2 separate regions of the Homo sapiens genome follow, and region 2 is reported to be linked to region 1. Evidence: microRNA targets listed by miRTarBase, many of them from high-throughput screens and not tested one by one. Region 1 holds a microRNA gene; the other region holds the end of a gene's coding sequence.

What was found. The annotated mature microRNA hsa-miR-1537-5p reads AGCUGUAAUUAGUCAGUUUUCU and lies in region 1 at 6,224-6,245, opposite strand. An mRNA with a match to its seed (bases 2 to 7 or 8) in the 3' UTR can be bound and repressed. Matches are read on the target gene's strand: a 7mer-m8 pairs with bases 2 to 8, a 7mer-A1 pairs with bases 2 to 7 and ends in A, and an 8mer does both.
Region 2: the mRNA of ZNF740 is a reported target of hsa-miR-1537-5p. Seed matches in the 3' UTR shown: 8mer at 9,765-9,772, 7mer-m8 at 7,964-7,970, 7mer-m8 at 7,687-7,693 and 7mer-A1 at 3,018-3,024.

Annotation. Positions count from the first base shown.
Region 1 is chr1:235,846,814-235,862,006 of GRCh38, forward strand. MIR1537 (microRNA 1537) reads right to left here and starts at 6,247; the gene lies at 6,187-6,247. All of the region lies in intron 1 of LYST (lysosomal trafficking regulator), which reads right to left.
Region 2 is chr12:53,182,381-53,197,573 of GRCh38, reverse strand. It overlaps ZNF740 (zinc finger protein 740), which reads right to left. Exons shown (of 7, transcript NM_001004304.4): 3 at 12,534-12,683; 4 at 12,098-12,187; 5 at 11,497-11,620; 6 at 11,065-11,183; 7 at 2,432-10,073. The coding sequence ends at 9,984. ITGB7 (integrin subunit beta 7) reads left to right here. Exons shown (of 16, transcript NM_000889.3): 5 at 1-81; 6 at 754-995; 7 at 1,375-1,533; 8 at 1,853-1,948; 9 at 2,111-2,200; 10 at 3,230-3,376; 11 at 3,673-3,866; 12 at 4,211-4,434; 13 at 4,664-4,883; 14 at 5,036-5,244; 15 at 5,555-5,715; 16 at 5,938-6,251. The coding sequence ends at 6,018. Among named protein-coding and RNA genes, the nearest start is that of CSAD, 9.1 kb to the right of the region's middle. RefSeq lists a silencer at 7,195-7,489.

The DNA.
Region 1 (15,193 bases):
TCCAACAAAGACAAAGAAAAAAGAATACGAAAATATGAACAAAGCCTCCAAGAAGTCTGGGATTATGTTAAATGACCACACCTAAGAATAATCAGTGTTCCTGAGGAAGAAGAGAATTCTAAAAGCTTGGAAAACATATCTGGGTGGATAATTGAGGAAAACTTCCCTGGCCTTGCTAGAGACGTAGACATCCAAATACAGAAGCATAAAGATCACCTGGGAAATTCATCTCAAAAAGATCTTCGCGTAGGCACATTGTCATGAGGTTATCCAAAGTTAAGATGAAGGAAAGAATTTTAAGAGCTGTGAAACAGTAGTACCAGGTAGCCTATAAAAGAAAACCTATCAGATTAACAGCAGATTTCTCAGCAGAAACCCTATAAGCTAGAAGGGATTGGGGCCCTAACTTCAGACTCCTCAAACAAAACAATTATCAGCCAAGAATTTTGTATCCAGCAAAATTAAGCATCATATATGAAGGAAAGATACAGTCTTTTTCAGACAAACACATGCTGAGAGAATTCGCCATCACCAAGCCACCACTAGAAGAACTGCTAAAAGGAGCTCCAAGTCTTGAAACAAATCCTGGAAACACATCAAAACAGAACCTCTTCAAAGCATAAATCACACAGGGCCTATAGAACAAAAATGCAAGTTAAAAAGCAAAAACAAAACAACAACAAACAAAAGTACAGAGGCAACAAGGAGCATGATGAATGGAACCATACCGCACATTTCAATGCTAAAATTGAATGTAAATGGCCTAAATGCTCCACTTAAAAGATACAGAACCACAGAATGGATAAGAATTCACCAATCAACTATCTATTGCCTTCAGGATACTCACCTAACACATAAGCACTCACATACGGTAAAGGGGTGGGAAAAGGCATTTCATGCAAATGGACACCAAAAGCCAGCAAGGTATTCTTACATCAGACAAAACAAACTTTAAAGCAACAGCAGTTAAAAGAGACAAAGAGGGACATTATATAATGGTAAAAGGCCTTGTCCAACAGGAAGATATCACAATCCTAAACATATATGCACTTAACACTGGAGCTCCCAAATTTATAAAACAATTACTAATAGACCTAAGAAATGAGACAGCAACACAATAATAGTGGGGGACTTCAATACTCCAATGACCAGACAGGTCATCAACACAGAAGGTCAACAAAGAAACAATGAATTTAAACTATACCTTGGAACAAATGGACTTGACAGATATATACAGACATTTCATCCAACAACTGCAGAATATACATTCTATTCAACAGCACATGGAACTTTCTCCAAGATAGATCATATGACAGGCAACAAAACGAGTCTCAATAGATTTAAGAAAACTGAAATTATATCAAGCACTCTCTCAGACCACAGCGGCATAAAACTGGAAATCAACTCCAAAGGGAAGCTTCAAAACCATGCAAATACATGGAAATTAAATAACCTGCTCCTGAATGAGCATTGGGTCAAAAACGAAATCAAGATAGAAATTAAAAAATTCTTCGAACTGAATGACAATAATGACACAACCTATCAAAACCTCTGCGATGGAGCAAGGGTGGTGCTAAGAGGAAAGTTCACAGTCCTAAATGCCTACATCAAAAAGTCTGAAAGAGCACAATCTAAGGTCACACCTCAAGGAACTAGAGAAACTAGAACAAAGCAAACCCAAACCCAGCAGAAGAAAGGAAATAACCAAGATCAGAGCAAAACTAAATGAAATTGAAACAAACAAAAAAAATACAAAAGATAAATGAAACAAAAAGCTGGTTCTTTGAAAAGATAAATAAAATTGATATATCATTAGCAAGATTAACCAAGAAAAGAAGAGAGAAAATCCAAATGACCTCATTAAGAAATGAAATGGGAGATACTACAACTGACACCACTGAAATACAAAAGATCATTCAAGGCTACTACGAATACATTTACAGACATAAACTAGAAAGTCTAGAAGAGATGGATACATTCCTGGAAAAATACAACCCTCCTAGCTTAAATCAGGAAGAATGAGATACCCTGAACAGACCCAGCGAGATTGAAATGGTAATTTAATAATTACCACTAAAAAAAAAGTCCAGGACCAGACAGATTCACGGCAGAATTCTACCAGACATTTAAAGAATTGGTACCAATCCTTTTGACACTATTCCACAAGAAAGAGAAAGAGGGAACCCTACCTAATTCATTATATGAAGCCAGCATCACACTAATATCAAAACCAGGAAAGGACATAACCAAAAAGAGAAAACTACAGAACGATATCCTTGATGAACACAGATGCTAAAATCCTTAACAAAATACTAGCTAACCAAATCCAAGAACATGTCAAAAAGATAATCCACCATGATCAAGTGGGTTTCATACCAGGGATGCAGGGATGGTTTAACATACGTAAGTCAATAAATGTGATACACCACATAAACAGGATTAAAAACAAAAATCACATGATCATCTCAATAGATGCAGAAAAAGCATTCAACAAAATCCAGCATCCTTTATGATTAAAATTCTCAGCAAAATCGGCATACAAGGGTCATACCTTAATGTAATAAAAGCCCTCTATGACAAACCCACAGCCAACATAATACTGAATGGGGAAAAGTTGAAAGCATTCCCTCTGAGAATTAAAACAAGACAAGGATGCCCACTCTCACCACTCCCCTTCAACATAGTACTGGAAGTCCTAGCCAGAGCAATCAGACAAGAGGAAGAAATAAAGGGCATCCAAGTCAGTAAAGAGGAAGTCAAACTTTCACTGTTTGCTGATGATATGATTGTTTACCTTGAAAACCCTAAGGACTCCTCTAGAAAGCTCACGGAACTGATAAAAGAATTCAACAAAGTTTCTGGATACAAGATTAATGTACACGAATCAGTAGCTCTTCTATACACCAACAGCGACCAAGTGGAGAATCAAATAAAAGAACTCAACCCCTTTTACAATAGCTCCAAAAAAAAAAAAAAAAAAAAAAACTTAGGAAGACACCTAACAAAGGAATTGAAAGATCTCTACAAGGAAAACTACAAAACACTGCTCAAAGAAATCACAGATGACACAAACAAATGGAAACATATCCCATGCTCATGGATGGGTAGAATCAATATTGTGAAAATGACTATACTGCCAAAAGCAATCTACAAATTCAATGCAATCCCCATCAAAATACCACTATCATTCTTCACAGAATTAGAAAAAAAAATCTAAAATTCATATGGAACCAAAAAAGAGCCTGCATAGCCAAAGCAAGACTAAGTGAAAAGAACAAATCTGGAGGCATCACATTACCTGATTTCAAACTATACTATAAGGCCATAGTCACCAAAATAGTGTGGTACTGGTATAAAAATAGGCACATAGACCAATGGAACACAATAGAGAACCCAGAAATAAACCCAAATACCTACAGCCAACTGATCTTTGACAAAGCAAACAAAAACATAAAGTGGGGAAAGGACATTCTTTTCAACAAATCATGCTGGAATAATCAGCTAGCCGCATGTAGGAGAATGAAACTGGATCCTCATCTCTCACCTTATACAAAAAATCAACTACACATGTACTAAGGACTTAAACTTAAGACCTGAAACTATAAAAATTCTAGAAGATAACATTGGAAAAACCTTTCTAGACATTGGCTTAGGCAAGGATTTCATGACAGAGAACCCAAAAGTAAATGCAATAACAACAAAGATAAATAGCTGGGACCTAATTAAACTAAAGAGCTTTTGCATGGCAAAAGTAACAGTCAGCAGAGTAAACAAACAACCCACAGAATTGGGAGAAAATCTTCACAATCTATACATCTGACAAAGGACTAATATCCAGAATCTACAACAAACTCAAACAAATCAGTAGGAAAAAAACAATCCCATCAAAAAGTGGGCTAAGGACATGAATAGACAGTTCTCAAAAGAAGATATATAAATGGCCAACAAACATATGAAAAAATGCTCAACATCACTAATGATCAGGGGAATGCAAATCAAAACCACAATGTGATACCATCTCACTCCTGCAAGAATGGCCATAATCAAAAAATCAAAAAACAGTAGATGTTGGCATGGACGTGGTGAACAGGGAACACTTCTGCACTGCTGGTAGGAATGTAAACTAGTACAGCCTCTATGGAAAACAATGTGGAGATTCCTTAAAGAACTAAAAGTAGAACTAACATTGGATCTAGCAATCCCACTACTGGGTATCTACTCAGAGAAAAAGAAGTCATTATTTGAAAAAGATACTTACACACGTTTATAGCAGCAAAATTCACAATTGCAAAATTGTGGAACCAACCCAAATGCCCATCAATCAACAAGTGAATAAAGAAACTGTGGTATGTAAGTATGTATGTATATGTGTGTGTATATATATATATATGATGAAATACAATGCAGCCATAAAAAGGAATGAATTAACAGCATCTGCAGTGACCTGGATGAGACTGGAGACTATTATTCTAAGTGAAGTAACTTGGGAATGGAAAACAAAACATCATATGTTCTCACTGATATGTGGGAGCTAAGCTATGAGGATGCAAAGGCATAGAATGATACAATGGACTCTGAGGACTTGGGGGGAAGAGTGGGAGGGGGGCGAGGGATTAAAAGACTACAAATATGGTACAGTGTATACTGCTTGGGTGATAGGTACACCAAAATCTCACAAATCACCACTAAATAACTTATTCATGTAACCAAATACCACCTGTACCCCAATAACTGATGGAAAAATTAAAAATAATAAAAATAAAAAGGTTTATTGGCAAAAAAAGAATGATTCCTAACTAAAGACAAAACAAAGTTCATTAGGAATATTATTTTTATATATTTACTTTTATTAATATAAAAACCTTTATAATCTATTTTATAGTGGATAATAAATACACTCTCGAGAATACTGAAGCAAAATCTGGTACTCACTAAATAGGGGAAATTAAAATATTTAATGGGCTTTGTGTGATCAAATTCCTCTTGGAATTTAAAATGCAGATCAGGGAAAGATATGACACTTAAAGTTCTAAATTAAATAACTGAATAAGAAAATTCATGAAAACCAATTTAACAATAATATAAATGGTTTCACAAACTGAAATCTTCCATAAGACAAATCATGATCCCATATTTATTGACTACTCACCATACTTCGTGGTATGTTCAACTTTCATTGAATCTATTAACTTTAAAAGAAATGATAGCAGTTGTTTAGCGCCCAGGCCCTTCTTGACAAATACTGAACTTGCTTCTCTGAAGAGTGCATTAAGGAGCATCTGACTAGAAGTCAAGATGTCATGTATTCTTAGGAAATAAAGATTGTGGTCTCCAGTTCCGTAGATACTAACATTGGGACAGCTTCAGGAAGGAAATGCTGTTAAGGCTTTTAACTACAGACCCTACAGAATCTTAGTAACAACTCATGCCTCAATGGGAAAATGAATTCAGAGTTCCAACTTGAATTGCTAGCAATATGTTTTGCCCCATTCTCCCCCAGCCCCCTGCCTGTCAGGGAGGGAGAAGAGATTCCTGTACCTCAAAGCCATTTGTGGTAGCTCCAACAATCTGGGGAAAGGGCCCCAAAAGTAGGATAGTACCACGTAAGGCAAACAGTAAGCCAGTTAGACATGTTGAGGTAATCTCAGCACTTTGCCGGACCTTTTTCCCGGGGAAGTCTCACAATGCAACACTCAAGTATACTGTAGTTTATTTTGTCTGTAAGGGCAAATCTTATGCATTCTAAACATTCTCAACAACCATCTTAGAAATGAGCCTCTGGAACACAGTCATATGTAAGACGTAACTGCCATACTCAAAAGACATTTTTTCAACTAATACTGAGGTAAGTGACAAGTTGATTGACAATAAAGGAAAACTGCCAGAGTTCGCATTTAATAAATTATTTTAAAATGAGAATCCATTCTACAATCAACTTTCAGAGAGTTAAACGATCTCTGGGTTAATGACCATATCACCTCCCTCAAAATTTTACAGATAAACTAAGGCAGACAGCAGTTAAGAGATTTCCCAAAAGTCAGAGGACTTAACAGCTAGGTCTGCAGAGTCCTATCCAATGTTTTTCCTAATACTGCATACAATTTTTGACAGACTACTCACAACCAAACTATATCTTTCAGAATTCTACCTTTCAGAGCATTTTAGCGATTAGGTCTGGCACAACTTACAACTGTAACTAGACGGTTTTCTGTGTGGACAGGACAGAAAACTGACTAATTACAGCTGTACTTAGTGCCAACTCCCAGGCACGCCTCCAAGCACCACAAACTTCTTGCCCCCCCACAAACTTCTCAAGATGTTTTACAGCTTTGTTATCTTTTTCCATGTTTCCACATTGTACATTTATACCAAAAAGTAAATGACTTGGAAGAAAAATGTTGCTCCTCTTGAAAAGAAGTATGTACATTTTAACAAGAAGTAACACCTTCAGCTCTAAAGAGCATCAGAAATTTCAGCATCGGAGGGTTAAGAATTGGCTCTGAACTAGATGTTCTATATTTAAAATGTGGGAATATAATAATCCTTAACTAGTGAATATGGAAATAAATGGTTGTGCTGTTCCTATATTTATTCTGTATTATGCATTTAAGCTAAGTTAAAGTAGAAAAATGTGTTTAATGAAATATTTCCAATTTATGTAGAATTGTGTAAAGAAAACTAAAAAAAAAAACATGTATAACAGCAGTAAGGCAGTAGTTCTGGGGGAAGAATGGAAATCTAAGACAGCAATGGCCCAGAAAGGTGTACATATTATTTTTTCATATTTCAGGGTGTCAATAAACAACATTGCCTATTTCGCTACCCCTCTCCCCAAGCCCATGAAATCTTGGTTAACATGCCATTCCGGCTGCCTTGAAACCTGGGGCGCTGACCTAGGGAGGAGAGGTTACTCTGGCTCCTTGCAGAACAAAGCTGGCCAGGAAATAAAGGAAACTCAGGCATAGGGCAGCCAGGCAAAATTTTAATAGAAATTCAGAGGAAGTCACACTAAAACGCACCAAACTTAAGCCTTTCAACAGGTAGTTCATTTTTCCTAAAAACAAACAAATTCGGCAACCAGATATCTCAGGAAGAACCTGTGTTTGGCCCTGAGCACCGCAAAAGGGTAGAAATTCTGAGATATTGTAGCTATAGAGAGAGAGACGGCATTTAAAGGAACTATGAAGGTTCATCCAGGTAAATCATCTCCCCGGCTTTCTATCCCTGTTAGAAGGAATGTGCTAGATGTTTTACACTGACTACTACATCCCTCCTCAAAAGAGACCTTTGGATTTTTATAGCATGATGATGATGATGATAATCTGGCTAACACCTACAGTGATTAATTACTACACATCAGGCACTATTGTAAGCACTCTAGGTAAGTAGAGTAGTTAGTTTAATCCTCCTAACAATCTCCTAAGTAACATTATTATCCCTAGTTGACACATATTGGAAACTGAAGCACAGTAAGGTTAGGTCATTGCTCAAAGTCACAGAGTTACTAAGTGTCAGGGCCAGGATTCAGACTCATGCAATCCCTTTGTATTCTATATACAAATTTCTATTCTCCAAAGCAGACATTGACTTCTCTCTCCAATAAGCCAGCTCTTCCTTCTTCATTCCTCTTTCAGTAAATGGCCTCTACCCAGTGACTGAGGTGAGAAACCAGAATAGCACTTCATCTAGTGCCTAGTCAATTCTCCCTCTTGACCACTTACTGGTTCACCTCTGCATCTGCTGCTCTATGACCTTGGGTACTCGACTTCCTCTTTCTAAGCCTCAGTTTCTCATCTATACAACTGAGTTCATAAGAGTAGCTGTAGTTGTTGCGAATATCAACATTAAACGAGATAATTCATGTAAAATGCATAGCACAGTGCCTGGCAGATTGCAGGAAAATCAATTATTATTAGATATTATCATCATCACCTTGAATCTGGTCCTTCCCCCTAATCTTACACCTAAGCATCCTTAGACCTTCAACTCCTCTCTTACTTGCAATACTAACAACCTCCTACTTGATCACACTGTCTGGTCTATTTTCTGTTTAATCTAAATATGCTACCACTAAAAATGTTACTCATATCCCTTGGAATGACAAATGTCACTCCAATTCATAGGGAAGAAGATCCCAACTGCTTATTATCAAAGTATGCAATACCTGCTACAATTTAGCTTTTCCAAACTCCCAACACATAACACGTTGTACCACCCTGCAATTCCTTCAAAGGGTATACACTTTCTCAACTAATTTTTTATCATGTTGCTATGGAAATTCCCATTAATTCCCAATTAATTACTTTTCCATATGCCTCTATCTTATCACTCACCACACTGTACTGTATTGTTTCTTTTAAAACTAGATTATACTTTTCTTAAGAAAGGAAACCAGATCTTATTTGATCAGAAAAATATGAGCATCTAACACAGTACCACAGATACAAGAGTTCAATAAATAAACACCAGTTCATTTAATACTAACTTTGATAGAAAACATTTTAATATTCAAATACCTTTAGGAAATGTTCCCCCAGGTAAGGCTCTGAGAAACAGACACATTTACAAAAGCCACTCTCTATTCCACAATTAGCATTTAAGGCACTACCGAAACACCTTAAAAACCTTACCAAACATTTTTCATATTAAAACCAAAAACCTTCAGCAATAAAATTTTGGATGCTTATTCATACTGTTAAAGATAATCCAAAGCATACAGTTTAAAAGTTCTTGAAAATCAATTATAAGCATGATAGTTTTCCATACCTCCTGAGGAATGCTAAAAACAGCTTGGAGCCTTATCCTAAATGTGAAATGAAAATAATAAAAATAATTTATGTAGCTGTACTATAATAATAAACTTTTTTCATATATATTTTGCATAAGGTTAAAGATTCTGCAAAATAAGTTTTAGAAGATTCTGCAAAATAAGTTTTAGACATACTGAACACAGATATTTATAAGCTTTAAATACACCTTGCACGTATAGATAGCACGTTTCCTCTTATTTCATAATTCTTAAGAAACAAAAAAATTAGCTTCCCTTCAAAAGAAAGAAAAAACAATAATTGAGGCAGTCAATTACAGAAAAATGTGTTTACTGTTATAAAACATTTCACACCAAGAAAGATAACCACAAGTTCAAACTCAGATCTGGTGGCTGAATCTACTGTTCTATAACCATGTGTGAAGATGGATAGTTAGGGGAGCAGAGCACAGAACAGAAATAAGAAAGAAATATATATAAATATTTTCTGAGCACAGGCATTTCAAATTCCACCCACATAATTTTTTTCCCTACCACACTGGGTAGTTTCTATCATACTCGGTAGTTTCTATCACTGTGGTCTAAATGTAGACTTGTATAAAGAAAAAGGGTTAAAGTTAAAGGGGTAAAATAAGGAAATTACATATTGAAAACCAAACACTATGGGTTTCTATGATGCACAGACATCTTTTGGTTATGAGATCACTTTCTTAAAATACATTAAAATTTTCAAATGGTTGGTAGTATAACAGAAAGAATAGTAGACTAAAAGTCAAGAGATTCTCAGTTTTCTGTTTTGCCTTGTTCTCTTTAGGATCTCAGGCAAGGTGCTTAACCTTTCTGATGCCCATTATTCTTACAGATATTTAAAAAACAAAAACTAGATGATCTCTAAATGCCTCTTTGGGTTGTGAACTTTTATGAGAGTACAACATTCAGAAAATGTAGTAAGTATCAACATTAATTTAAGATTAAAATTATACATCTTCAATGTTTCCTTAAACTGTGCATAATCAGGTTTTATCAAAACTGCCTTACTGGGTTCTGTTTTTTAAAAAATAAGGTGAAGAGAAAATAAATATATTTCAGTAATGTGGAGCAAATGACTTTAGAAACATTCTCCAAAATGTTTAAATAAGGCTAATAGAGAAATATTTCAAGACTAATTATCAGTATTACTGTCTTTGGAAGCATCACTAAGCAGAAATTCAGGAAATGGCAAAAGATTTTAATCTTGAACAAACTCTAAGTCATAATGCAGTAAAGGTACAATGAAGTCTAGACACTTAAATATGAAAAGTAGGATAAGAGTGAGCTGATGGATATAAGCAGCTCTTACAAGTTACACAGGATATACTGATTTTTTTTTTTTTTTTTTTTTTGAGATGAAATCTCACTCTTGTCGCCCAGGCTGGAATGCAGTGGTGCGATCTCGGCTCACTGCAGCCTCCACCTCCTAGGTTCAAGCGATTCTCATGCCTCAGCCTCCTCAGTAGCTGGGATTACAGGTGTGCGTCACCACACCTAGCTAATTTTTTGTATTTTTAGTAGAGATGGGGTTTCACCATGTTGGCCAGGTTGGTCTTGAACAATAGGCATAAACCAGAGCCATCTTAGGCAAATCAAGATGTTTGGTCATACCAGTGATAAGTAACCAGAGAAGCTATCACCTTAGAAATGGTTGTGGATGTTGAAAATAAGTGAATTGAGCCCTCAACTAGATGGGCATGAGTGGAGATTACTAGCCTAAGATGACTTTCTCTAGTCACATGATATTGCCCTGAAATATCATGGGCTATTTCTTCTGGGTACATCTTCCTATATAAGGATGTTGGGATTTGAAGAAAGTTCTAGATTCATCTCTAGATGAACATTCAGAAGTCATTAACATATAGGTGGTATATGAAAGCTTAGAAATAGATGAGATCATCAAAGGAAAGCACAAAGAAAGAGAAATGAGGAGGAGGAGAGAATCCAGAGGCTCACCAACATGAAGGAGCTGGCAAAGAAGAATCCAGCCAATGAGACTGAAGAGGAGTGGTTAGAGGGGTACGAGGAAAACCAAAAAAGAGGGGGGTGTGTCTGTGGGTGTGTGTGCGCGTGTGCACACAGGTGTATATATATACACACACACACGTATATATACACAAACATATGTAAATACACACACACACACACACACACACACACACACACACACACACATATATATATAAAATTTCACAAGCCAAGAGAGAAGAGAGGGTTAAGAAATGAATGGTTAATATTTTCATATGCATCACTTTGGGGGCCAGGAAGACAAGTCAGTATTCTCCTAGTTTCCCAAGATGACTTGTAAGTCATTGTTATTCGATTTTATCCACTTTTAAGATTACATTATAGCTATATTTATAGTTGTCACCTACTGACCTTTGAGTCAGCCATCTCCATTTACTGAGAATTTTGTCGTATGACTATCTTCCTTTCCACACAGAAGCTATATATTCTGGGGACTTCATTATCCATAAGAACAATTGATTCCAACACACAAGACTTAATGCTCTTTGCCTTCTTCTTCAATGACCCCTACTTTGCAGAAGGCTAGCATGGTTTAGTAGTCAGGCATAAGTGCTTCAATGCTAGAAGGACTCAGAAAGACTCAGGTACTTCGTAGCTGTGAGTCTTGGGAAAAGTTACTCAATCTCACTGAGCTCCAGTTTCCTCATCTGTAAAATGTTGATACTAATATGTGAAACATAAGCATGATAACCTATGGAAAATATTTACTATAGTGACTACTACACAGTGTTCAATGAATAGTAGTTTTTATTAATATTAATATTGTTATAATTAGCACTATTAATCTTGGCTATCCACCCATCATTGGTCATTCTTTGGCCCTTATCATCACCTGAAACTGCTAACTCCAGAATCTTAAATTGAGAATTCTCACATCTATGTGCCAATTTTTCCATCTCTAGTACTCTTTTATTTCCATTAATCCTGCACTTGACTCATTTAGATTCTTCATCCTCTTCATTATCCACATTTACCAGCCTTGTCTTGGCTTGGCTTTGTTCCTTAATAAGCAGGATTCCTATGGCTCAACCCTTCAATTAGCAGCCTCATTACCACTCTCTATTCCTTGACTTCCCACTACCCCCTACTCAAGTTTTCCATCACATCTTCCCTTCCAATCTCAATCCAGGTTCAGTCTACTTGTTTTCTGCATTGTTATGGGGGTGGGGAAGGGGAGTGGTCCAAGTTCAGTCTATTTGTTTTCTGCATTGTTATGGGGGGCAGGGAAGGGGAGTGGGAGCAGGCAGGCTGCTGGAGAACACTGCTTAACCATCCTGCTGGCCTCTGTACATTTGTGATTTCAAGCCTGGAAGGGTATTCATCATGATTCAGCAAAGAAGTCACATGCCCCTAGTTAAGTCCCTTTTACAATCTCAATAGTAACTTTTATTTTCCCCTCAAGCATACTCCAACCCATGTTCTTCCTTCTCAATCTCAGCAGATAATCTTGCTTCACAGAGAAAAAGAGATGTCATCCTGGATACTAACTTATATCTATATCTACCCCATTTCCTTTTCGTTTTTAAACAGGAAGATACATCATTCCTCTTCTTCAGGGTAACTCTTTCATTTGTCCTCCTGGACCTGACTCTTCCATTTCCTCTCGTTACATTTGATCAATTATCTTCTACCTCTTGTGACTTCAATTTTCTTCCTCTTCAATGGTCCCTTTCCCTCAATCCACTGAAGTGTCCTTGGCTTCTCCATCCTTAAAACAGACAAACCTTCCCAATGATCACATCTACTTCCTCAAGCTTCTACCCACTAACCTCCCTTCATTACCAAAAGTATTTGAAAGAATATATTTACTGAACAAATGAAAATTGTTTTATTGGGTTTAGGCTTCTCTCCTGAGCACCAGGCCTTTTTTTTTTTTTAAATGTATCTATATCTGACTCAGTTTCAACAAAGGAAATAAAACAGCTAATTCCACCAAACTGAAGAAAACTGATGGATTTCACATCTCCAAATCCACTCCTCCACCCGTATTTTTTAAATTACGAGTAATTATCTGCATCCCCATTCACCCTCAGACAATCTAGAATCCTTAAAGCCTGCTTTGATTCCTCCCTCTCCTTTATCCATAACTACACAAGGCCTTTCTAAAATCTCTCACATCTGTCCCCTTTGCGCCTTCCTGGGATTATTACTGTTGAGGTCTTTCTCATCTTACACGAATTGAAAGGGATGTTGTCAGGGTTAAATAAAATAATAAATGGGAATGTACTCTGTAAGTTATAAAGTAGTACTATACAAAGAGTATCATACAAATACTATTACATCTTTGGCAAAGTAAGCATGAAGTTAGCTTAATATGACTTGTTCTTAAACAAATTCTGGGTCTTAGTAATCAGTGCTTTCTTTTCTAATTACAAATCACTAAGCACTTGGCAAGCTGGTCTATAGTTTTTCTAGGAATCAGTCAGTGTCAAGATTTTCAATATATAGTTTCTGGACTTTACCTTCCTCTCCCCCCATTTTTAAATGTAAAATATGCAATTCTTCAGGTTTCTGGCAGAAATCTTCTATCCTCTTTTTTAAAAAAAGACTTTATTTTTTAGAAGAGTTTTAGGTTCACAACAAAACAGAGAGGCAATTACAGAGTTTCCATGTACACCCTGCTCTCTCACACATGTACAGCCTCCCCAACTATGGACAGCCCCCCTAAACTGGTACATTTGTTATAATCAATGAACCTACACTGACAGGTCATTATCACCCAAAGTCCACAGTTTACATTAGGATTCACTCTTGATGTGGTATATTCTATGGGTATCGACAAATGTATAATAACATGTAGCTACCACTGTAGTATCTTCAGAATAGTTTCACCGCCCTAAAAATCTTCTGTGCTCTGCGTATTCATCCCTCCTTCTCTCCACCACTAATCTTTTTACTGTCTCCATAGTTTTGCCTTTCCCAGAATGCCATACACTTGTAATCATAAAGTATGCAGACTTTTCAGTTTGCCTTTTTTCACTTAGTGATATGCACTAAAGATTTCTTCATGTCTTTTCATGGTCAAGCCACTTTTAAACACAACTTTACAGGTATAACTGACATGTAACAAACCACATATTTAAAGTGCATAATTTGATATGTTCCAACATATGTGTACACCCATGAAACCATCATCAAATCAAGATAGTAAACATATCTAGTATCCCCTGAAGTTTCCTAGTATGCCACTGTTCTCCCTCTTTCCTGCCCCTTCCCTCTGTAACTTATCTCCAGGCCAGCATTGATCTTTCTTCCATTATAGATTAATAGGCATTTTCTAGAATTTTACAGATGGAACAATGCAGTATGTACTTTTTTTTTCTTTTTGGTCTGGCTTTTTTTCGTGCTGTGTAATTATTTTGAGATTTATCCATGTTGTTGTGTGATCTAAAGTTCATTCCTTGTTATTGCTAAGTAGTAATCTGTTATATAAACATTGCTTTTTAAAGATGAGTGGCAGTAGTTTTATAAACATTTCTAATATGTGTAGTACTCTACCCTATTGTTCATTTATTTCTTCCATTCAGTTAAAATAGTGAAAAGCTCTCTTATGTCCTCATCCATTTTATGTTTTAATTTCAAAGAATCATATTTGAATGGAACAATGACTAGCCTTTTGAAAATTATTTGATTCCTTTCTTGATTAAGATAATCAATTTTAAGCATTAATCTTTCATGTTATTAGGTAAGATTTTTGTTTTTCAGCAGTTAGACCTGGAAAGCCTTCAACATTTCCAAACGTATTGGACCTCTCTCATTACTGTAAACAAAGTTGGGGGATTAAGAGTTACAAAGCCAAACACTGGTGACACACAGCAGCAAAATAAAATAATATCAAAGACAATACAGTGCCCTCAAAGACTCCAAGATCAGTTTATAATTAGTTATTAATCTGACAGATTTTTATACATTTTTAAGATATATTTAGGTTGAAAATCCATTTTAAAAAATTAGCTTATTTCCTGGTTCTTAAAGTGTAGACCTTAAATTCCAGAAGACTGATATATACATATATATGTTTTGTTTGTTTGTTCTGTTTAGAGATGACGTGTTGCTGTGTTGCCCAGGCTGGACTCGAACCAGGCTCAAGCGATCCTCCCACCTCAGTCTTCCAAGTAACTGGGACTATAGGCACAAGCCATGGCTCCTGGCTTCGGAGACTGATAGACTTTTTATCCAAGTTTTACAGGGCAAATTCTATTGCTACAAATACTATATAATTTGATTTAGAAGATCTTCATTTAACATGTGATGGCCCATTTATTTCAAGCCATCTTTACTGAAACAAAACAATTAGGCTAATCCCTGCATATTACTAACTTACCAGTGTTAAATGAAATTTATAGGAGGTCACTGGTTTAGACTGAG
Region 2 (15,193 bases), not on the chromosome of region 1:
AGGACGACCTGGAACGCGTGCGCCAGCTCGGGCACGCTCTGCTGGTCCGGCTGCAGGAAGTCACCCATTCTGTGCGCATTGGTGAGCCGAGCGCTGCCTCCCGCCCTGTTAGCCCTTGCCTATTCAACCACTGCCCTAGCCTCTGCCAACATCCTGGACTCACAAGGGCCCCAACTTGCCCTCCCAGTTGTTGACAGGCCTAGCCAGGCCACAGGTTCGTTCCTGCATCTCTCCCTAGACACCCATCTTCTAGGTCAGAGCTGGAGAGGACTCAAGAGACTATCCGTTTTACAGGCCTGAGACCCAGCGTCTGGAGAGACTGTGCTCAGGCACTCTCTGGGCCTGGACAGCTGCCCTGGGCCTACCAACCTGGAACCTGCCCTGATGCAAGTCTCCCTGGACAAGACCTAGATGCCACTGTCCCTGGCTCCACATTCTGTGCCAACTCTCCTCTATTCAAATTTCCTTCCTTTGCCTCATGCTGCTACCATATCCTATACCCGGGCCTTCTTCCGCCTTCTGGAAGTTCCCATTTGCCCAGGAAGTTGTGTCCTCCTCTTAATGTCTTCTACCTGCCACTTCCCTGAGCCAGTGGTCTCACTGCTTTGCTTGCCAGTTACCAGGTCCCTGCCCCCTAGGTGCACCCTCTCCCATCACCGTCCTCCCCACCCCACTTCCCATAGAGCGCTCTCATGGGTCCTCTGTTGCTGCCCTGCGACTTCTGGCACAACCTTCATTCCTCTCCTCTCCCAGGTTTTGGTTCCTTTGTGGACAAAACGGTGCTGCCCTTTGTGAGCACAGTACCCTCCAAACTGCGCCACCCCTGCCCCACCCGGCTGGAGCGCTGCCAGTCACCATTCAGCTTTCACCATGTGCTGTCCCTGACGGGGGACGCACAAGCCTTCGAGCGGGAGGTGGGGCGCCAGAGTGTGTCCGGCAATCTGGACTCGCCTGAAGGTGGCTTCGATGCCATTCTGCAGGCTGCACTCTGCCAGGTGAGGAGGTGGGGCGGGGATCTGAGCCTGGAGGTCTGTTTGGGAACAGGACTGCCCCTTATGGTTGTGTAGTGCACAGTTCTAGGGGGTGCCATTCATACCATAGTTGCTGTAGTTTGTATATTTAGCAATTACCTGGTGGGTTGGAGTAAAATATCTTGAGGAGGAGGCATGTTTTTCGAATTCACAAGTAAGCCTCCACTAGCAGCAGCCTTCTTTAGGGGGCTGGAGAGAGCAGGGAGAAGCAAGGTACTGGAGGCAAGGGGATGGACAAGCTGACTCAGAGTGAGGCTGGCCACATTCTTGGCTCACAGAGCTGGCTGGGGTGGCTCAAGGGCCATGCCCAGGTGCATAGCCTACCACCCCCACTGTAACTCAGGAGCAGATTGGCTGGAGAAATGTGTCCCGGCTGCTGGTGTTCACTTCAGACGACACATTCCATACAGCTGGGGACGGGAAGTTGGGCGGCATTTTCATGCCCAGTGATGGGCACTGCCACTTGGACAGCAATGGCCTCTACAGTCGCAGCACAGAGTTTGTGAGTCCCTATTGTCACCCTGCCTCTCCCCATTTCAGCCACACCTCTTTCCTTCCAGGACTCCCACTCCCAGCCTTACAGTCCTCACCAGTAACCACCCTGTAGACACCCTGCCATCTTCTCCAGCAGTTCCTCCTTTCAGCTGCCGAGACAGGACACCTTTGTCACCCCATTCCCTACCTCCTTCCTATTCCATAGCAAGCCTCCAGGGCTCCTCCAGCTGGTGGAACCTTGGTTCCTGGATTCCCTGGGCTGAGGGCACCTTGCATGTTGTGGGGGAAACCTGTGGGGCTCACCTTGTCCCTGCTCCCTGTCCCAGGACTACCCTTCTGTGGGTCAGGTAGCCCAGGCCCTCTCTGCAGCAAATATCCAGCCCATCTTTGCTGTCACCAGTGCCGCACTGCCTGTCTACCAGGTGAGAGCTGTCTACATGTCAGATCCCCCAGCCCCATCCCAACCTTTCTCAATTCCCCCAAAGATACATTCTCCGTCCCCCATATGCCCTCCTTCCAGACCTCCGGGAGCCCATTTTCCTAGAGCTGTGACCCACCATTTCCCTTAACTCCCCAAAACTCAGGAGCTGAGTAAACTGATTCCTAAGTCTGCAGTTGGGGAGCTGAGTGAGGACTCCAGCAACGTGGTACAGCTCATCATGGATGCTTATAATGTGAGGGGCCAGGGGAAGGGGAGATGGTGAGGGTGGGCACTAGGGAAAGGTGGAAAGGGGCCCTTGGGTGGGGTGGCAGAACTAAGAGGAAATGGTCACTTTTTGGTCTAACATTCCACAGCTCCTACCTATAGTCTGCATGTGGCTGTCATTAACTGTTCAATCTTACATTCATAAATCTTAAAACATCTGACATGCAGACAGCATGGAGCTCTGCTCTGGGCAAGAAAGGAAAGTTTCAATCACTGAGCTTTTATTTCATGCGCCCACCATCCTAGGTGTACATACTGTTTGCTACTTCATTTAACCCTGCCAAAAGCCTTGCTTCATAACTGTTACCATCCCTATTTTACAGATGAGGAAACCCACACAAGGAGGCTAAGTGACTTGTCCAAGGTCACAAAGATAACAAACAGAAGGGCTGGCATTTGTCCCCAGTCAGTCTGTACATAAACAATGTGAGATCTGGAGCCTGCTTTCACTAAGTTTATAAATAATTCAGAGCTATTCTTCACAAGAACCATAGAATTTTACAGGTAGAAGGAACCATAAAAATTCTTAGTGGTTTAGGTCTTACCTCTGCAACTAGGCTGTAGGCTTCTTGATAACAGGGAGCATCTCCTAAACCTATGGCAAGAAAATCTGAGACAGTATCAAATTTCCCAAGATAAACTCTGTAATGAATCTGCCCTTTAGACCTGGCATGCACCCAGGTTATGTGTCCTGATGTGGGGCTTCACAAACATGGTCTCTGTACATTTACAGCACCTGGCCAGCCTGTGACCCTCAGTGGCCCTTGCTGGCAGCTGCACTGAAATGCTGTATTAGAGGCCTCTGGATCCTGTATGTTCTATGCAAGGTTCTCACGGGTCCTCCCTCCAGAAATGCCTCGACTGGGCAGAATGGAAGGAGCCCCAGGTGGCAGAGGGCAGGGTGCTGGCAGAATTGGGAACACCTGGAGAGGACATAAGGTGGGGTTGGAGTCCTTTTCTGCCTTCACGTGGTTATCCACTCGCTCTCTTCCCATAGAGCCTGTCTTCCACCGTGACCCTTGAACACTCTTCACTCCCTCCTGGGGTCCACATTTCTTACGAATCCCAGTGTGAGGGTCCTGAGAAGAGGGAGGGTAAGGCTGAGGATCGAGGACAGTGCAACCACGTCCGAATCAACCAGACGGTGAGAGCCAGCAAGCACAGGCAGAAGGCGGGCAGGGGGAGGTGGGAGTGGGAAATTAAGCAGGCAGGAAAAGATGGGTGGCAGGTACAGGGAGTGACATGAGAGCCTGAGGTAGTCCTCCATCCATCCTTCCTGGAGCAGTCTGAGTGGCTTCCTCAGGCATGTTTCTAGGAGTTGGGTGTTAACATGACCCCATCCCTTCATTTACTAAGGGGTGAGGTTCTGGATGATTGGTGAGTTTGGGGTATGTGTGTGTGCATGTGTATAACCATGGCCTGATTCCTGCCTCTTCTCAGGTGACTTTCTGGGTTTCTCTCCAAGCCACCCACTGCCTCCCAGAGCCCCATCTCCTGAGGCTCCGGGCCCTTGGCTTCTCAGAGGAGCTGATTGTGGAGTTGCACACGCTGTGTGACTGTAATTGCAGTGACACCCAGCCCCAGGCTCCCCACTGCAGTGATGGCCAGGGACACCTACAATGTGGTGTATGCAGGTGAGGGCCTCCTCTTCCCTTCAACCACCTGGCTCCCAACAACCAACCAACCCTGGCCCGTATTCCTCCGCTGCTTTCCATCCCCCCCACAGGAGTCTCCTCGACATCCCGACTCCCCACTCAGTTTCATCCCTTGAAGCTTCCCATGTATGTCCAGGCCCTCCCCCTGACTGGGGCTCCCTCCACTCTCTCACCCCTCAGTGTTTCACTATACTTAACATCCTTTCAGCTGTTTGTCTGTCTCCAACTCTTTTGAGAACTTGGGTTTAGAGGTTCCTGGGAGAGACAAGTCAGGGGTGATCAAACCCTCTGACCTACTTCTCTCCTTTGCCTTCCCCTTCCAGCTGTGCCCCTGGCCGCCTAGGTCGGCTCTGTGAGTGCTCTGTGGCAGAGCTGTCCTCCCCAGACCTGGAATCTGGGTGCCGGGCTCCCAATGGCACAGGGCCCCTGTGCAGTGGAAAGGGTCACTGTCAATGTGGACGCTGCAGCTGCAGTGGACAGAGCTCTGGGCATCTGTGCGAGTGTGACGATGCCAGCTGTGAGCGACATGAGGGCATCCTCTGCGGAGGTACCTGGAGCCTTGGGGAGAAGGGCGGGGTCTGAGAGGCCTTCCCAAGGCACTTAGGCTCTGGGAATCTCCTGGCATGGAAGGCAAATATCAAAAGATTCCGGTGTATGGGTTAGAGGGTGTGGTTGGCATACTTCAAAAAGATTGGATGCGTGGGCTTGTCGTGCCACATGATGGCCAACTGTGTGTGTGGAGTATGGTTGTCACCCTCTGCATGGCTCTACCCCAGGCTTTGGTCGCTGCCAATGTGGAGTATGTCACTGTCATGCCAACCGCACGGGCAGAGCATGCGAATGCAGTGGGGACATGGACAGTTGCATCAGTCCCGAGGGAGGGCTCTGCAGTGGGCATGGACGCTGCAAATGCAACCGCTGCCAGTGCTTGGACGGCTACTATGGTGCTCTATGCGACCAATGCCCAGGCTGCAAGACACCATGCGAGAGACACCGGTGAGGCCTCAGGTCTTGCATCTTGGGAGCAGGGGCACAGTGGGGCTTGTTGAGCTACTCCCATCTGCCTACTCTCCGTCCTGCTTGTAGTTGGGCAAGGGGCATTGGGTGACAACTGCCCAGCTGGTAACCTATTGGCATCTACTACACAGGGACTGTGCAGAGTGTGGGGCCTTCAGGACTGGCCCACTGGCCACCAACTGCAGTACAGCTTGTGCCCATACCAATGTGACCCTGGCCTTGGCCCCTATCTTGGATGATGGCTGGTGCAAAGAGCGGACCCTGGACAACCAGCTGTTCTTCTTCTTGGTGGAGGATGACGCCAGAGGCACGGTCGTGCTCAGAGTGAGACCCCAAGAAAGTAAGTGGGCAGGGATGCCACAAACCCTGGAAGTTTGATGGGCAGGGTCTCAACTCTGGGGATGCAGAGTGAAGATAATGGGAAACAGGCTGGGGGCTGAAGCAGAACTGTGAATCCAGGACAAAGGCAGAGGCAATTGAGCAAGTGGACGAGGCTAAGGCCCTGGGCGGTGAGGATAACCTTGGACCTCCCTGGGTTCCCTTTGCTTTCAGTGACAGACAGGGTTGGACAGGCTGGACACACTGTGAGCAACTGATGATCTGTCCCTATGCTCCAGCTCCCACAAGTGTGTCTGGTTTCTTGTTCACAGAGGGAGCAGACCACACGCAGGCCATTGTGCTGGGCTGCGTAGGGGGCATCGTGGCAGTGGGGCTGGGGCTGGTCCTGGCTTACCGGCTCTCGGTGGAAATCTATGACCGCCGGGAATACAGTCGCTTTGAGAAGGAGCAGCAACAACTCAACTGGAAGCAGGTGAGGAGACTTCCTGGTTAGGCCCCTTTTTAGCTGTTCCCCCACCACAAGACCAGCCCTGATTCCTCCCACTGGGTTCCCCCAGCCCCTGGCACATGTAACCAACCCCTCTGCTAACTTCCATCAGCTCCTAGGATTCGGCTCAAGGCTGGCCTCTTAGGTCTAGAAAGGGGACGAGGAATCCTGGGATTTTTGCTTATAATCTGCAACATCTTTCTCCAGGACAGTAATCCTCTCTACAAAAGTGCCATCACGACCACCATCAATCCTCGCTTTCAAGAGGCAGACAGTCCCACTCTCTGAAGGAGGGAGGGACACTTACCCAAGGCTCTTCTCCTTGGAGGACAGTGGGAACTGGAGGGTGAGAGGAAGGGTGGGTCTGTAAGACCTTGGTAGGGGACTAATTCACTGGCGAGGTGCGGCCACCACCCTACTTCATTTTCAGAGTGACACCCAAGAGGGCTGCTTCCCATGCCTGCAACCTTGCATCCATCTGGGCTACCCCACCCAAGTATACAATAAAGTCTTACCTCAGACCACAGCTGTCACTTTGCTTTACCTCATCAAGGCCAAAGCAGACTGTTTATAGCCTGGGCCTCGGGAAAGCTCTTGTCCATCCTCCTCTTGCCACCTGAGGGCAGGGAGAGGTGCCCAAGCGCGAATGTGCAGGAAACTCCCGGGGTGCACCCTGGGACCCAGGAAGCCAGGTCTGGAAAGGGCCTATGAATTCTCAAGTGCTGCGGATGCAGGGGGGTCCCAGGTCAGAGACACTGCATCTGTTGGTGTCTAGCCTCCTTCCGTCCTGCTGCGTGTGCTTTTTCGTCTTGCTCAGAACTGATGCCCTGTTTTTGCTCCTACTTGCTTGTTCCTCTGTGGAGAAGGGGTTTTAAAATGGCTTATAGGGTGCTGGAAGTTGTGGGGTGATTATGTAGGGAGAAAAAAGGAAAACAACTAAAACCAGTATGAAAAAGCTTCCCCAAAGAGGAGATAGTATGTAGAAAAGCCCCATTTTCCTTTTATTTAAATATCCTAAATATATCACGAAGGAACATACACTGCACTTTAATGGTAAAAAGATACAAGTTTATAACATCTTATAAAAACTACCATTTAAAAGTGATCTTGTCCATTTGATATTCCCCTCCCCCATAGCAAAATATTATTTAAAAAAAAAAAAAACAAAAAACAGGGTGGAGAGGAGGATAGGAAGGGGACAGTTGATAAAACCCCAGGGCCACAGCAGAGGCAAAGGGCATCTGGGGAGAGGGTTCGAAGCTGTGGCGGACTCCACTAATGTAACCCTCCAATGTCAAGCCATGGGCGTGATCAGTAGCTAAGTGATGACAAGGCTGTTGGGGGTGGACGGAAAAGACTTGGGGCAAAGCAGACTGTTTATAGCCTGAGCTGGTAGGGCCTGGTGCAGCAGCCTACCCGGAACTGGCACTACTCTTTCCCAGGTTCCCTGACTCTCTATCCTGGTCTCTGAGAGCGTGCCCTACTTCCGTTTCCCCCACTCCAAACACACCTGAGGCATCTTCCAGTGCTAGGCCCCATGCTGGCCAGCAGGGGTCGGGCATTGGGCCCAGGAGCCTCTGCAGCGGTGTGAGTCAGTGGCTTCCCTGGGGTATCCGTGGGGCTCCCGGGCCCTCTGGATGCCAAATCACTCCTTTCACTGCTTTGCGCCTCTCTTCTCACACATGCACTGCCCCAGACATCAGCGCGGGAACTGAACCAACCACCTGCTCCTGAGTTTCCCTCACTGGGTCCTTGGCAGGGGTGGCTCTGCTATGGCTGTTCGCACATACTCTCTGAAGTTCCCTCCCTCCCACCCACCCAGGCAGGAAACCAAGGTCTGTGGGAACCCAGGGCACCTTCTGACCCAGTACACACATTAGTACACATAGGGGCACAGGTCACTCATGTGAGACTTACATGAATCTCTCCACATACACCCCTATCCCAAAGAGACTAGCTGTAAGTGGCAGGGACAGAGGGCTCTCATTTTCAAAAGCATTTTTGGGAGGATAGTTTTCTAAATATTTTAAAATGGTTTACAGGGTACTGGAAGATGTGGGGTGAATCATCCCAGAAGTGAAGGACAGGAAAAGCCCAGATCCAGCAGAACCCTTGAACAGGAAGGGGGCTGGCTCACATGCAGAAAGATGCCCCTGCTTGCAGGGACCACAGGGCTGATCCAAGGACTGAGGTCTAAGTTCTGGACCACATCAAATGGGAGTGTCAGCATAGAGCTGTAAGAGTACATGGCAGCAAACACTCCTCAGCGTCTCCCCAAAAGGATCTCAGATGCTGTCAGGGAAAATCGAATGGGTGCCATGCCTGCTTTCTTTTTCCCTGAAATACTCATACCACAGAGGTATGGACAACCCCCTCCCCAACCCCACCCCTCCAGAATAGGTAACAGCCAGGAATCATTGCTGGTATCCATTCTTTACATTTTCTGGGAAATGAAATCATACTTTCAGGAGTTTCCCATCTCAGACCCTACTGACAGCTTGGCACTCAGGTTCAGCCAGTCTCCATGATTACTAAGACAGTTCCCGTACCCGCCACAGGTCAGGTCAGGTTACAGTGGGGGTCAACCAAACCCCAAAACTTCCCATAAGGATTCTTTCTTTAGCAGAAAGAAAAGGTTTATTTCACCTTAGAAAATTCATGTTCACAAGCCCTGGCTTGGGTTAGAAACATCCTAACCACCAGGCTGTTGAATTCATCTTAAAAAAAAAAACCCTCCAAAACAAAAGCCCTTCTGTTCCCCAAATTGTGTTCTTCAGCTCCTGCTGAGACCTCAAGCACCCTTCATGTTTGGGCAAGAGGAGGCTATTTTCCACTCATCCTCCCTGAAGGTGAGGGCCAGAGAAGGGTTTGGCTCAATAATATGCCATCTCCTGCAAGCATACAAATACATGCATTCATATCTCACACACACTCTCTCTCACACACACACACACACCCGATTACTTTTTTGGGAGTGGACAAGGTGGTGGTATTGGAGCAGAGAGGAGCAAAGAATATGGTTAAGAATGGAACCTACATTAGGTTTCTTCTTTAGTCTTTTCTCTGCAGCACCCCCACCCCCATCCCCCACACTCTGTTGGGTAGGGATGGCCATCAGGAAGCAAGCCGAGATCTTGTTTTTTGGGACCAAAGGACAGACCCCTCCCTACCTCCTCTACCTGAATACAGTGATAGGACTTGGGGAGGGAGAACAGCTCCTACTGCTCAACAGGCATGTCAGAAGACCCCAGATTCCTTTGTTTCTTGAGCAGCTGTTAGCCAACTTGGGACCAGTCTTGGGTTGTTCCTAAGAGGGCACAAGGAGAGAGAACCCACTTTGACTTCCATGACTCCTTGCTCAACACATCTGTCTCACTTTAGGAGTCAATGGCAGCGAGGTAGCCACATACCATCTCCAAGACCGACTCCCCAAAAAAAGAAGAAAAGGGCTTCATGGGCCACTCTCACCCAAGTTTCCTCCTAAAGGCATTTGAGCTGATGCCATCAGGTGCCAATGTGACATGGGCCATGACAACACCCACTGGCACAACTCTTCCTTTTCCCTTGAGGAAGGAAGAGGTGCCATCCACTTTTTGGATCCAGCCCTTGTCTGCTCCACCCCGTTTTTCCTTTTGTCCCTACAGTGTATAAGGAAGCCAAAGTAAGCTCAGCTGCCATTCCTGACCTTATTCTTCCTCAAAAAGGAGGCGAAGTGCAGGATTGTGAAACACTGAGGAGCTACTGCAACTAAAAACCCAATTTTTGGGGAGAGCTGGACCAGCTATAGTCCCTACTTTGGACCAGGACTCTTATGCCTCTGGATTACCTGTATCCACAGTTTACCCGCTGAAGTTGCTTTTGGATAAACAAAAACAAGAACAGAACAAACAAATCCCCTTCCCCAATCTTTTCCATTTCAGCTGCCAGCTGGAGTCCAAGGTTGTGGGAGCCACACTTCAGTCTTGGTCCTGTACCTTGAGTCCCCACCTATGACCTCAGCCAAGGGTCCAGGGACTAGCTCCCCTACCCAGGAATGCTGTAAGAACTTCCCCGAGATACTCATAGTCTCAGATTATTTACAGAGCTGAGGTTCTGGGGCCACTGTCCCCTGATGCACTCTTCTGGTCTCCTGGGTCCACTCCTCCAGGAGTGGGACAGGTTCACATGGGGCGGTGGTGGGACCATCAGACCAGAGGGGGTGTGCTCTTCGGCAGGTTCTTCTGATCACTCCCACCACCCGGGGCCCCTTGCGCCTATAGAGAAAACTGCCCGTCGGAAGTCTTGGACTGGCACCCTTGGCACATCCGTTTGTGTCTGAGTAATCGATCTGTCCGAGAAAAACACTGAGAAGAAAGGGAGGGTTAAGTGCCTGAGCAGACAAACGCAGCTACCTGTTGGCTAACTCATTCCTCTCACAGGAGGCAGATACCACATTCTCCATCCCCTCAGCACGTGCACAGACAGCAGGAGCACACGGTGGTGGAGAATCCAAGCTCTCAGGCCAGACCGCCTGGGGCTGAATCTTGGCTCTATCACTCAGCAGCTGTGTGACCTTGGGCAAGTTACCTAACAGCCCAGAATCTGCATACTCATCTGCAAAACTGCAAAGCGAGGCTAAAAGTACCTACTCACAGCACAGCTGCTTTATTCATCAAAGATTTATTGAGTATCTATCTCAAGGCAGATACAGAGTAGAGAACCAGAGGAACAAAGTCTCTGCCCTCATGGAGCTTTTATTCTAGCGTCTGAAGATTCAGTGTAAGAGTGCAGAGCAAAGCTTGGGACCTAGCAATGCATCCAGGAAGTGTTAGCTATTATCATTTCTCATCTCTTGTTCTTGTCTTGTTTTGGCCCCAGCTCTTACATTCTCATCAGATCAGATACTGACCCCCAGGGCAAAGATTGTATCTCTTCCTCCAAAGTGCATTAGCTCTGAAGTTGGACTGAATCCCAGCTCTGTTCGTGATCTGCGGTGTCCCTGGGAAACTTAACTTCTCTGAATCTCAATTTTCCCATACGTGAAATAAGGACAATACAGCTACCTTAGGGAGTCAATGTGAGGATTAAATAAAATCATCTATGTAAAGTATGCTCTCACAGTGCCTGGCATAGAGTAAGTGATATGGAATGCTATTATTATTATTATTACAATGTTCTAATTGCTGCTCCCCATGATCAGCTGCATAAGGCCAGACAGATGCACTTCACCCCGATGTGTTAACTATTATGGCGAGTAACGCTGGTGGCTCTTTTGTCAGGCAGGAGTGGAGGGTGGCCCTGATTCTTGGGGAAGGAAAAGTGTGTGTGGGGTATTGTAGCAGGGATGAGCCTTACCTGATGACACCGTTCACACTGGTAAGGCTTTTCACCACTGTGCACACGCTTGTGGCGTTCCAGGTGGTACTTCTGGATGAAACGCATATCACATATATCGCATTCAAATGGCTTCTCACCTGGCCCAGGTGGACAGAGAAGTGAATGTGGGGAGGTATGTACAGTAGGGACCTCATTCCAGTTTTCTCAGAAACTTTAACTCTTAGTAATGTGTAGACACCTAAGTGATCATAAATGGGGAGAGGTCCCCAAAGGTGCTGGTCTCAGTGACACCAGATACAAAGCCATGCAATCTCTCTGCTTCATTGACTTATCTTCTTCCTTCATTTCTAATACTTACCCATTAAAATAAACCCAACTAGAGCCACAAACAGACATGGAATACAAGCGATAGACTATTCTCCCCCTTTTGAATATAAACAAGAGACTTACCAGTGTGAATAAGGATGTGCCTCTTTAGGTGGTAACTGCTCCGAAAGGCTCCAAAGCAGTGTTCACAAACAAAATTTTTGGGAATCTTTACTTGAAAAGAACCATTTTGTTCCACTACCACCACCTGGGGGCAATAATCAGGCATGTCATGAGGCCACCACTGCCCTCTTCCTGGAGACACTGTTCTACTCTGGGTCCACTTCCAGCTGTTGGAGAAAGGAACCTCTCTGATGCTGTCTAAAGGTGCTGCCATCTCCTGTACTCCATGGAGGTAAGAGACCCTTTGGGGAAGGAGGTGGAGTGGGTAAGCTGTCTATCCTGTCAAACCCAGCAGTCTGAGTATGACTTGAGCTGGAGCCTGCCTGCTCCCATGCCTCGGGATCTGGGATCTCATGCTCCCCAACCTGTACCATTACTGTTCCAGCAAGGCAGGAGATCAACTACCAAGGTAGTCTCTGGATGAAATCTGGGGGACTCACTCACTGGCTATCAGAGATCAAAGCATCTAGGGAAAGCTCCAGGTTACATGGTAGAGGGAAGAAGGAGGAATATTACCCCATTACCAAACTGTATGAGTTTGGGGGATCACCCCATTACCTGCCTTTTTAACAGTCTTTTTTGAATGAGAGGCCTCAGACAAGCTGTCATCATCTTTGCGGCTCCGGGACTTATCACTGTCTTTTCGGTGACCCTTTGAAGACAAATCAAATCTAAACTCATAGCCCATCTCGGAACATGAGATGAGACCCAATGCAGCTCTCAGACAAAATTCATAAATGAGAGTAAACCACCTGCCCCGAAAGCTTAGAGGAAGTATACAACTATTTCCTCTCCAAGCACCTGGTCTTAAAAGAGTTGAAGGCACACAAAAGACCTTCCTTAGCTTTCTGAAATACCAATGTTCATCCATTCCCCAGTTGGATCCCCTTGCCCCACTTCCCTATGAGGAAGCATCAAGGAATCAGAGCTTGGTATCTCCTGGCAGAGAGCTTGGGCCACCCGATCCCCAGGTGCCACAATGGACTCAAGCGCTGTACCTGACTCGAGCACCTCAGCACATCAGGGCTACCTGCCCGCTCGCCATTCTCGGCCTGCTTGCTGGCAATCTGGCTCAGCATCATCTTCTTGCTGGCTGCAGTGGGAACCAAACTCACACCTGCTAGGCCTTCACAAGCCAGGAGACTTGCCTAAGTTGAAAGGAGATGAGGTGTCAGGTCACCTGGCAGGGCAGGGCAAAAACAGACTGCCATCCTCTATAGAACTACCTTTTACACCCTGCTACAAACTGCTTCTCTCCAGGGAATGTCCCTCCTCACTGCCAAAGCCTTGCTTCCTTCAAGAGTCCTCCCTAACTCATCTCACCAGGAACGACTTATCTTGTCATCCTTCAGCATTTAAATATAGATCAAGTAAATAATCAAGTATTACTGACACCTTTGTCATCAGCACTAGGCAGTGTGTGGCTACATATTTCTTTGAAGGTATTTCTAGGCCTTAACTGTGAGTGGGTATGAGGTTCCATCTTGCTAACCCACTGACACAGGAGATTCCTTCAGGACCTTCCTCCTTCCTCCCTCAACAGCCCTCAGCTGGGCCGAGTGCAGTGGCTCACACCTATAATCCCAGCACTTTGGGAGAATGAGGCGGGCGGATCACGAAGTCAGGAGTTCGAGACAAGCCTGGACAATAGGTGAAACCTTGTCTATACTAAAAATACAAGAATTAGCCAGGTGTGGTGGCACACACCTGCGGTCCCAGCTACTCGGGAGGCTGAGGCAGAAGAATTGCTTGAACCCGGGAGGCGGAGGCTGCAGTGAGCCGAAATCGCGCCACTGCACTCCAGCCTGGGCAACAGAGCGAGAATCCCTCCGTCACTCACACACACACACACACACACACACCCCTTAGCTTCAGAGCGCGCGCGCGCACACACACACACACACACACACACACACACACACACCCCTTAGCTTCAGAGCCCACTTTTGATTGGCAGATCTTGCTGGTGCCAACTGTATTTTCTATCGGTTTGTTTCATTTTTTGCTTGTTGGTTGAGACAGGGTGTCACTCTGTCGCCCAGGCTGGAGTGCAGTGGCACGATCTCGGCTCACTGCACTCTTGACCTCCCTGGCTTAAGCGATCCTTCTACCTCTACCTCCTGAGTAACTGGGACTTCAGGAGAATGCCACCACACCCGGCTATTTTTTTTTGTATTTATAGAGACGGGGTTTCACCATGTTGCCTAGGCTGGTGTGGAACTCCTGAGCTTAAACAATCCTCCAGCCTCAGTCTCCTAAGGTCCTGGGACTACAGGCTATTTCTCCCTTTAGATTTTAAACTCCCTAAGTATTTACCAATTGCAACTGATATGATTTTTGGAGTTCAGCATTTCTCTTGACCTCTTAGGCCATTTATATGTGTGCTTGTATGATCACATTTTTTTTCACATTCCTTGCTCCATATATAATTTAAACAATTACTTAAGTAAGGTATGTTTAAGTAAATTTCCAGAAAACTGCTACATTCTTCAAACTGACTTCGGTTAGCCGGCATTAAAGAAAATACTTTTCTTACTGAAAAAAAAAATTTTAAGAAATCGTTGGTCAGCAAACTCACAAATTTATGAAGAAATTCCTTTTAGATGATCAGTACGTTCTGGGACCCCTCCCTCCACCTTCTGGGACTTTGGAGTGAAAGATCCAGAGTTAAAATCTTAGCTCAGCTGTTTGCACTCTATAATCTTGGGCAAGTTATTCCACCTTTGCAAGCCTTAGTTTCCTTACATGAAAAATGCCTGTCATAATGCTTATCCTTACAGGGTTGATGAAAAGTAAACTAAGACGTAAAACGCTTAACAGTGTCTAGCACAAAGTTCAGTCCTTAGTGGAAGGCAGCATTCTCAGAAGACTGAATACAATGCTGAGAAGTGGGTTGCAAAACACAAAGGAAGAAGAAACTGACAGGCTCCTATTCTATATGGAAAGGAGGAAGCTGTGCATTCAGAAGCAGCTGGAGGAAAGCCAATTATACTACAATCAGACTGCCATCCTGGTGAGACTGGTAGGGAGGTTCCCTAGAAGCAAGCTGGGAGAAGCTCTGGAGATGTGTGCACATAGCTATTCTACTCAGATGACTACAACAGCCTATCTGCTCATTCTGTCTCTCCAGTCCATCCTCTACCTCCACAATAATGACCTTCTACATAACACTGATCTGATGCTACTCTGCTGCTTAACTTAGCGAGGCATAAAAGGCCTTTGGGTTACACTCTGCTTACTGCAGGGAACAACTTCCTCACCTATCACTGTCAATACTACCTCCATAACTATCCCCATTTAAATCCCTTACTCCGTAACTATCAAACAACCTGCAGTACTCGGAACCTCATCACATTTTCCCATGACTCTAAGCTCCTGCCCATGCTGTTCCTTTTGTCCAAACACCCTTCTCGCTTGTTTAGCAAAATCCTATGCATCTTTCAACCTCCATCTTCTTTTTCTATCCAAGCAGAAGTACTGTTCTCTCCTATGTACATACCCCTATTATTGCACATTCCTCAATCAACAGATTCAGAGTCTCTACTACTAGCCAGCCACTATACAAGGCATTGTGAATATAAAAATAAATGGCTTTCCATCCCTCTCCCGACCCCAACTAGCCTGGAAGCTCACTGGGGACAAGGACAATCGTATTCAT